2 linked regions of the Homo sapiens genome follow. The protein of the gene in region 1 purifies or fractionates together with the protein of each later gene. This does not show direct contact. Each region holds a gene or a part of one and is shown on either strand. Other genes may lie near its edges.

Region 1 (4,176 bases):
CCTGGGGAGTCACCATGCAGGGAGAGCCTGAGCCCTGAGCTACCCCTCCATTCCCAGAGACCCACCCAGGCGATGGAGCGGCCCTGGGCTCCCGGTCAGCTGGCGGGCGGACGGCGGCAACCCCTGAGCCCAGAGGAGCCCCGATAGACCCGACACCGGCAGAAACCAGGGGTTCAGATTTGACTGTGAAGTCTCAGCGTGTTTACGTGGGGCGTCCCAATCCCGACACCCCAAACACACCCCAAGAACCGACGCCTGGGGAGAGTTGTCACGGCCACTGTGGCAGAGCCACACTGCTCCCACACTAAGCTCAGGGCCACAGTGGTGGTCGTTGGCTGCTTCCCCTTCCCCTTTCCCTTTTTCTTTTTCTTTTTCTGACACGGTCTCACTCTGTGGCCCAGGCTGGAGTGCAGTGGTATGATCTCGGCTCACTGCAACCTCTGCCTGCCGGGTTTAAGCGATTCTCGTGCCTCAGCTCCTGAGTAGCTGGGATTACAGGCACCCACCACCGTGCCCAGCTAATTTTTGTATTTTTAGTAGAGACGGTATTTCCCTATGTTGGCTGGTCTCGAACTCCTAACCTCAAGTGATCTGCCCACTTTGGCCTCCCAAAGTGCTAGGATTACAGGTGTGAGCCACTGTGCCCAGCCCTTTTTTTCTTTGTTTCTTTCTTTTTTTTGTTTTTGTTTTTGAGATGCTGCCTCACTCTGTTGCTGCAATCTTGGCTCACTGCAGCCTCCACCTCCCAGGTTCAAGCGATCCTGGCACCTCAGCCTCCCTAGCAGCTGGGACCACAGGCGCCTGGCCCATTTATTTTAATAGCTTTATCTCAGTATTTTCACACACCATATAATTCACCTGGTGAAACGTTTGTAGTATATTCATAAAGTTGTGCAACCACCACCACAGTCTAATTCCACAGCATTCTCACAGCTGCAAAAAGAACCCACCTCAGCCCTGCCAGCCGTCACTCCCCGTCCCCTCCCCCAGGCCCTGGTGCTCACACATCCCCTCTCTGTCTCTGTGGCTCGGCCTGTCCTGGACATTTCATAGACGTGGGATCACACGCTGCGTGGTCTTCTGTGTCTGGCATCTCTCACTGGACGTGATGTCCTCAAGATGCAATCCCCCCTCCCCCCCGCCGTGGCCTGGTCTGGGCCTTGCCCCTTTCCATGGTTGAGTCGTGCTCTGAGGTGCGGGTGGACACTGGAGCTGTTTGCATCTGCCGACGACGATGATGAACTGTGCTGCCGTGAACTCTCACCTGCCAGTTCTGGCCATGTGAACATTTGGTGGGCAGGTGTCTTCGTTTCTCTGGGGTCTGCGCCTGGAGTGAAAGTTCTAGCTCGTGGGTCATGGGGTAGTTCCATCTGGGGGACTTCTGGGCTCCCAGCAGGCCTGACGGGGTCTTGCATCTCGTCCTGGCTGGCCCTGGGAAGTGGCATCTCGCTGGGGCTGGCCGGCTGCGTTTACCCAGCGTGTTTTTGGAGGCATGTCCTGTACACGTCCTTTCCCCCCCCACTTTTCTTTTTTTTTGAGATGGAGTGTCACTCTGTCGCCCGGGCTAGAGTGCAGTGGCGCGATCTCGGCTCACTGCAAGCTCTGCCTCCCAGGTTCAAGCCGTTCTCCTGCCTCAGCCTCCCGACTTTGCCCGTTTTTAGTTGCGTTGTCTGTTTCTCTTTTTCTTTTTTTTTTTGGCAGGGTCTGGTTCTGTCACCCAGGCTAGCGCAGTGGTGGGACCACAGCTCACTGCGGTCTCGATCTCCTGGACTCAAGCCATTCTGCCTCCTGCCTCCCGCTCCTGCCTGTCTCCTCCCCCTCCTTAGTAGCTGGAGCTACAGACCCACCCCAGCATACCCAGCTAATTTGTTTTTTGTAGAAATGGGGTTTGGCCATGTTGGCTAGGCTGGTCTCAAGCTCCTGACCTCAAATGGTCTGCCCACCTTGGCTTCCCAAAGTACTGGGATCACAGGTGTGAGCTGCTGCACCTGGCCTGGGCTTTTTTTTCTTTCTTTCTTTCTTTCTTTTGAGTTGTAAGCACTTTTTTTTTTCCCGATACGGAGTCTCACTCTGTCGCCCAGGCTGGAGTTACAATGTCATGATCTCGGCTCGTTGCAGCCTCCGCCTCCTAGGTTCAAGCGATTCTCCTGTCTCAGCCTCCTGAGTAGCTGGGATTACAGGTACGTGCCACCACGCCTGGCTAACATTTGTATTTTTAGTAGAGACGGGGTTTCTCCATGTTGTCCAGGCTGGTCTCGAACTCCTGGCCTCAGGTGATTCGCCTGCCTCGGCCTCCCAAAGTGCCAGGATTACAGGTATGAGACACCGCGCCCGGCCAGCACTTTTTTTTTTTTTTTTTTTTTTTTTTTTTTTTTTTTTGAGACGGAGTCTTGCTCCCTCGCCCAGGCTGCAGTGCAATGGCACAATCTCAGCTCACTGCAACCTCCGCCTCCCGGGCTCAAGCAATTCTCCTGCCTCAGCCTCCCAAGTAGCTGGGATTACAGGCGCCCGCCACCACACCCGGCTAATTTTTGTATTTTTAGTAGAGACAGAGTTTCACCATGTTGGCCAGGCTGGTCTCCAACTCCTGATCTCAGATGATCCGCCCGCCTCGGCCTCCCGAAGTGCCAGGATTACAGGCCTGAGCCACCGCGCCCCCGGTGATGGCGGAGCGTGCCGAGAATTCGTGGGGCGTGGGCTGAAACGCATGTGGTGCCTCCCGGCCTCACCAGGAGCCGGGCCGCACTTTTTCTATATTGTAGATGGTGCCTCTTCACTCTCCCCTCACGGTGGGTTCATGTGCATCTGGCATCGTTTGCTCACCCTGGCCTTAGTCCCTCCCCACCCAGCCTGTGCTTCAGTGGCAGGAGCAGGTGAGGCAGGCACGGCGTGGTGTGGGCGGGGGCCCAGCTGTCGGCCCTCCCCTTGGGCACTGCACGCCAGACCCCCGCTTCTCCCCAGAGTCAGTGGGTGAGGCCGGGATCTTGCTTGCTGGAGAGGTCCCAGCCCCTGCCCCTGCGAAGACTGAACAGCCCCGGTGCAACCTGCATCCCCAGAGCCTGGGGTCGACCTTGGCTCCCCTCACAGCACTCCCCCATGCACGGTGGGAGCCTTGTCTCCTGTTTTTGTCTGTGTTACCTGGGGGTGGTCTTGGGACCCCCATGTGAGCCCCTGGCGTGATGACACGTGCCGTGTGAGGCCATTTTCACGTTGCTGCGATGGAGCACTTGAGACTGGGTCGTTCATAGAGAGCAGTTGATTTAGCTTCCAGTTTCCAGTTCTGCAGGCTGTGCGGGAAGTGTGTGTCGGCATCTGCCCAGCCCCTGGTGAGGCCGGGAGGCACCATGCACGTTTCAGCCCAGGCCCCACGAATGCTCGGCACGCTCCGCCATCACCAGGGGCCCAGCCATCCATGAGGAGTCCGCCCTGTGAGCCAGTGTCTCCAGCAGGCCCTTCAGCCCTGGGGATCCCGTTGCAGTGTGAGATCCACAGGGGATGGCATCCGTCCTGCTCGGCACAGCTGTGGCTTGAGGCTGGTGCTGGGGAACTGTGAACGTGGTTTTGGGACTCACCCACGGCTGTCCCTGGGCAGGGTCCTCACGTCTCCTCTGGGACATCACCATGTTGGCCTTGTGTTGTCCTTGGCTCTAGGGGGACCTGGGGATGGGGTCTTGCAGGGGTGTGGCCAGCGTGGACGTGGCCTCCCCCGAGCCAGGGGAACGGGCTGTGTGCGGGGCTGCCAGAGCGTCCTGGAAATGCCACTGTGGGGTATTGGGGCACCCCTCCGAGTGGTGCCACCTGTGTGAGGAGGTGCCCAGGCACTGGTGACGCCCGTCACGGTGGGGCAGGTCGGAGGGGCTCAGCCAAGGCGCTGATGACGCTGGTGACGCCCGTCACGGTGGGGCCAGGTCGGAGGGGCTCAGATCGCCGGGAGCCACCAAAGGGTCAGCGGGTGGCTGGCAGAGGCCAGGTCCCCTCGGCCGCCCTCCAGGACCCACGGGTTGGGAGCCACCCTGGCCTGCGTGTGCCTGGCCAGCCAGAGACCGCTGGGTCCGGAGCCCCTCTGTCCTCACACTTGGGGGGGTTTGCAGGTGATGCCGGCGTCACCGTGACCCGGCCTCCTGTTCTCTCCTGCAGGATTATATCTGTCCAAGATGCGAGTCTGGTTTTATCGAG
Region 2 (3,180 bases), on another chromosome or scaffold:
GGTCAGGAGTTCGAGACCAGCCTGGCCAACATGGTGAAACCCCATCTCTATTAAAATACAAAAATAAGCCAGGCGTGTTGGCGTGCACCTGTAATTCCAGCTACTTGGGAGGCTGAGGCAGAAGAATTGCTTGAACCCGGTGGGGGGGTGGAAATTGCAGTGAGCCGAGATCGTGTCATTGCACTCCAGCCTGGGCAACAAGAGTGAAACTCCATCTCAAAGAAAAGAAAATTAGCCGGGCATGGTGGCGTGCGCCTGTAATCCCAGCTACTCGGGAGGCTGAGGCAGGAGGATCACTTGGAACCTGGCGGCAGAGGTTGCAGTGAGCCGAGATCGAGCCACTGTACTCCAGCCTGGGTGACAAGAGGGAGACTCTATCTCAAATAAAAAGTAAATAAATAGAAATGCAAAGCTTACCGTGGCTGACGAAGCCCGGCGTGCCCCGCCCAGGCACCCTTGCCACCTTGTTCTGGGCTGGGTCCACCCAGCTGTGGCCACATGGTGGAGCAGGCCAGCTGGCTCCCCTGCCACTGACCTTTGCACGTACCATTTCCTCCATGCAAGCACCTCCCCACCCTCCGCCCGCTGACTCCCTCACCAGGCTCCCAGGGAGGAAAGCGTGAGCCCCAGAATATCCATCTGCCGCTGGTCACCTCAGCAGAGTCCCCTGAGGCCCCCACGCTAGTGTCCCTCTGCCCGTTACTCTTTTTCCGTCTCCTTCGTAGCTGGCATCACACTGTGGGATTTTGATTGGCCACCTTTGCTGAGCATCTGTCTTCCCCAGTAGGCTGGGGGCCCCAAGAGGACAGGGACCCCTTGCCAAGCCCTGTCTCAGAGGCCTTCCAGGTGGGACAGATGAGCCAGAAAGCCTCAACGTGGCACTTCCAAAGCCTGCCTGCCCAGACACCACCTCACCTGCCCTCCGCTAGCCATCGGCCCCTCTTTACAGATGAGGACATTATGCCAGCACAGAGGACCATCACACTGCTGATGAGTGGCAGGAGTGGGCTGGATCACGTGGGCACAGCATGGTGCTGAAGCCCCAGGTGAAGGGGAGGTCATCATGGCCCAGTCCCACAGCTGAACCCAGGGTGAGAGCAGGGTCAGAGTCCTTTCCTCCAGAGCCTGGCAGAAAGGTGGGACAAGCCAGCTCTGCGAAGAGGCCTCTAAAAACAACCCTTATGGTTACCCGGGTGTGCCCAGGCTGCTGTGAGCCCATCTGGGCCAACAGCCACCCTCTGCAGAGGCCTGGCTTCCAAGGCGCCCCCTGCCCAGCCTCACCTCCTCTTTTGGGGCTGGTCCAGCCGCACGTCCCAGCAGCAGCAGCCGCCCTCGCAGCCGGCCAGCAGGCGGGCGTCCGGGCAGGAGGCGACAGGGCAGAGGCGCAGGGGGATAGAGGTGGTGTCCAGTGTGAGCAGCTGGCTGCCAGTGGGCAAGGGGGAACAGAGCATCAGACCCAGACCGAGGTGTCCCTGCCCCAGCAGCTGGCCACTCCCCAGCCTCACCCGAAGCATCACCTGGCCTGGAATTCGTAGTCCTGGTTGGGCACCCCGATGTCCCAGAGGATGATCCGCTTGTCATAGGAGGCCGCTGAAGAGGGGGTGGGGTAGGGGAGAAGTGGCCCTGAGATGACCCTGCTCCCTCCTGCTGGCTGCATCCCAGGCTGAGCCCACGGTCCCAAGGCCAGCCCCTCCGAGGCGGGGAGGGCGGGCCGAGGCTAGGAGACAGGAACACTCCTGGGCCCCCAATCCCTGTTTCCTCCATCTAACCTGATGCGGTGGCTCCAGCGGCCACTTCCTGTGGCTCATCCATCCCCCTTGACAGGGGCGCCACACCCGGGGGCAGGGGCATCCCCCCAGGTCACTGACAGGGGACAGAGTGGCCCAGGCTGTTGGAAAACTCCGAGGCCACAGAGCAGGCTGTGGATAAAGCCAGGGTTGAAGCGACATGGCTTCCTGCCAAAGCTAGAGTCGGAGCGGTGCAGACTGGGGCCCGGCAGGCGCCCGAGCTCACAGCCATCCCAGGGAGGGGAGCGTGGAGGCTACTGGGGCAGCAGGACAGGGGTGCTTGGGGGTCCCAGGGGTGAAGGGGAGGGGCTTACTGAAGAGATGGGTCTCGTGGGCGGGGCTGAAGCACAGGGTGGCGATGGCCTTCTTGTGGGCTCGGATGACCCCGCAGCAGAAGCCGGCACGCACGTGCAGCAGCCGGACCAGGCCCCGTAGGCCTGCAGCCGCCAGCACACTCCAGCGCTTCTTGTGGCCAGCCTGTGTGACCACCATCAGAGCGGTCCAGGCCACAGAAAAGAACTCCTGGGCGGGGGTTAGAGTAAACAGTCACTGGGGCAGAGCTATTGGTGTGAACACGCGGGTAGCCCGGGCCTGGGGGAGGGAGCCCCAGCATGAAAGAAAAAGGCCATGGGGCAGGGGGCCGAGCCTGCATCCATCCCCATGCTGCTGTTCAGGAGTCAGTCGGGCACCCTTGCCCAGCAGGGACAGGGCCTTGCACTCACCTCGCCGGGTGCCTTGTACTTGTGGAGCACGATGCCCGTCTGGCAATCAATTACGCACACAGCCTCCCCGCCGCACGTGGCCACGGTCTGGGATGTGGCCCCTGAGTGCCCGGTTTTGAGAGGTCGGATGAGCAGAGACATTTCCCATCTAGGTCCTCCCTGCAGCCTCCTCCTCCCAGCCTTGATGGCGCCTTTTAAGCTCTGTCTCCTGATCCCCCACCCATCCAGGCGGCCCTATTTCCAGCGGCCCTTGCCCCGCCTGCCCGCCACCATGTACCCTCCTCCCAGGCCGGCTCGAAGGCACAGGCCCACAGCTGGGTCTCGAGGTCCTGGGGGCTGTTGTTCTTGCTGTGGCACTGCAGGAAGTGCAGGGGCTCCAGCTTCACAGCAGGCTGTGGGGGGAGAGAAGGGTCACAGCTGCCCAGCCCCGACTCATCTGCCACCTGCTCCTTGCCACCTCAGCTCACCTGGCTGCCATCGGAGCCTGCCACAGGGCTGCCCTCCACCTGGGCCGACGGGGAGGCACACGCCCGCTTGCTGGGAGAGAGGCTGAGTGGGACGTCGTCTGGCCGTTTCAAGGCCGCCAGTCTGGCCTGTGGAGGGGGCCTTGTGACCATGGGCCTGTCTGCCTGGGGCTTCCTTCCTCCCCATCACAGGCTGGACCCCACCTC

Evidence for each region. Proteins that work in one complex are often made in the same cells at the same time.
Region 2: the proteins of RNF126 (region 1) and LRWD1 purify together in Homo sapiens (affinity purification with mass spectrometry; 3 studies listed by BioGRID and IntAct, with this or other methods). This does not show direct contact.

Annotation. Positions count from the first base shown.
Region 1 is NC_000019.10:652,846-657,021, reverse strand, and holds part of RNF126 (E3 ubiquitin-protein ligase RNF126), read left to right. Parts: intron 1-4,137; coding exon 4,138-4,176. UniProt on the Homo sapiens protein: E3 ubiquitin-protein ligase that mediates ubiquitination oF target proteins. Depending on the associated E2 ligase, mediates 'Lys-27'-, 'Lys-29'-, 'Lys-48'- and/or 'Lys-63'-linked polyubiquitination of substrates.
Region 2 is NC_000007.14:102,467,984-102,471,163, reverse strand, and holds part of LRWD1 (leucine-rich repeat and WD repeat-containing protein 1), read right to left. Parts: intron 3,103-3,180; coding exon 2,977-3,102; intron 2,902-2,976; coding exon 2,787-2,901; intron 2,611-2,786; coding exon 2,510-2,610; intron 2,310-2,509; coding exon 2,102-2,309; intron 1,591-2,101; coding exon 1,518-1,590; intron 1,423-1,517; coding exon 1,282-1,422; intron 1-1,281. UniProt on the Homo sapiens protein: Required for G1/S transition. Recruits and stabilizes the origin recognition complex (ORC) onto chromatin during G1 to establish pre-replication complex (preRC) and to heterochromatic sites in post-replicated cells.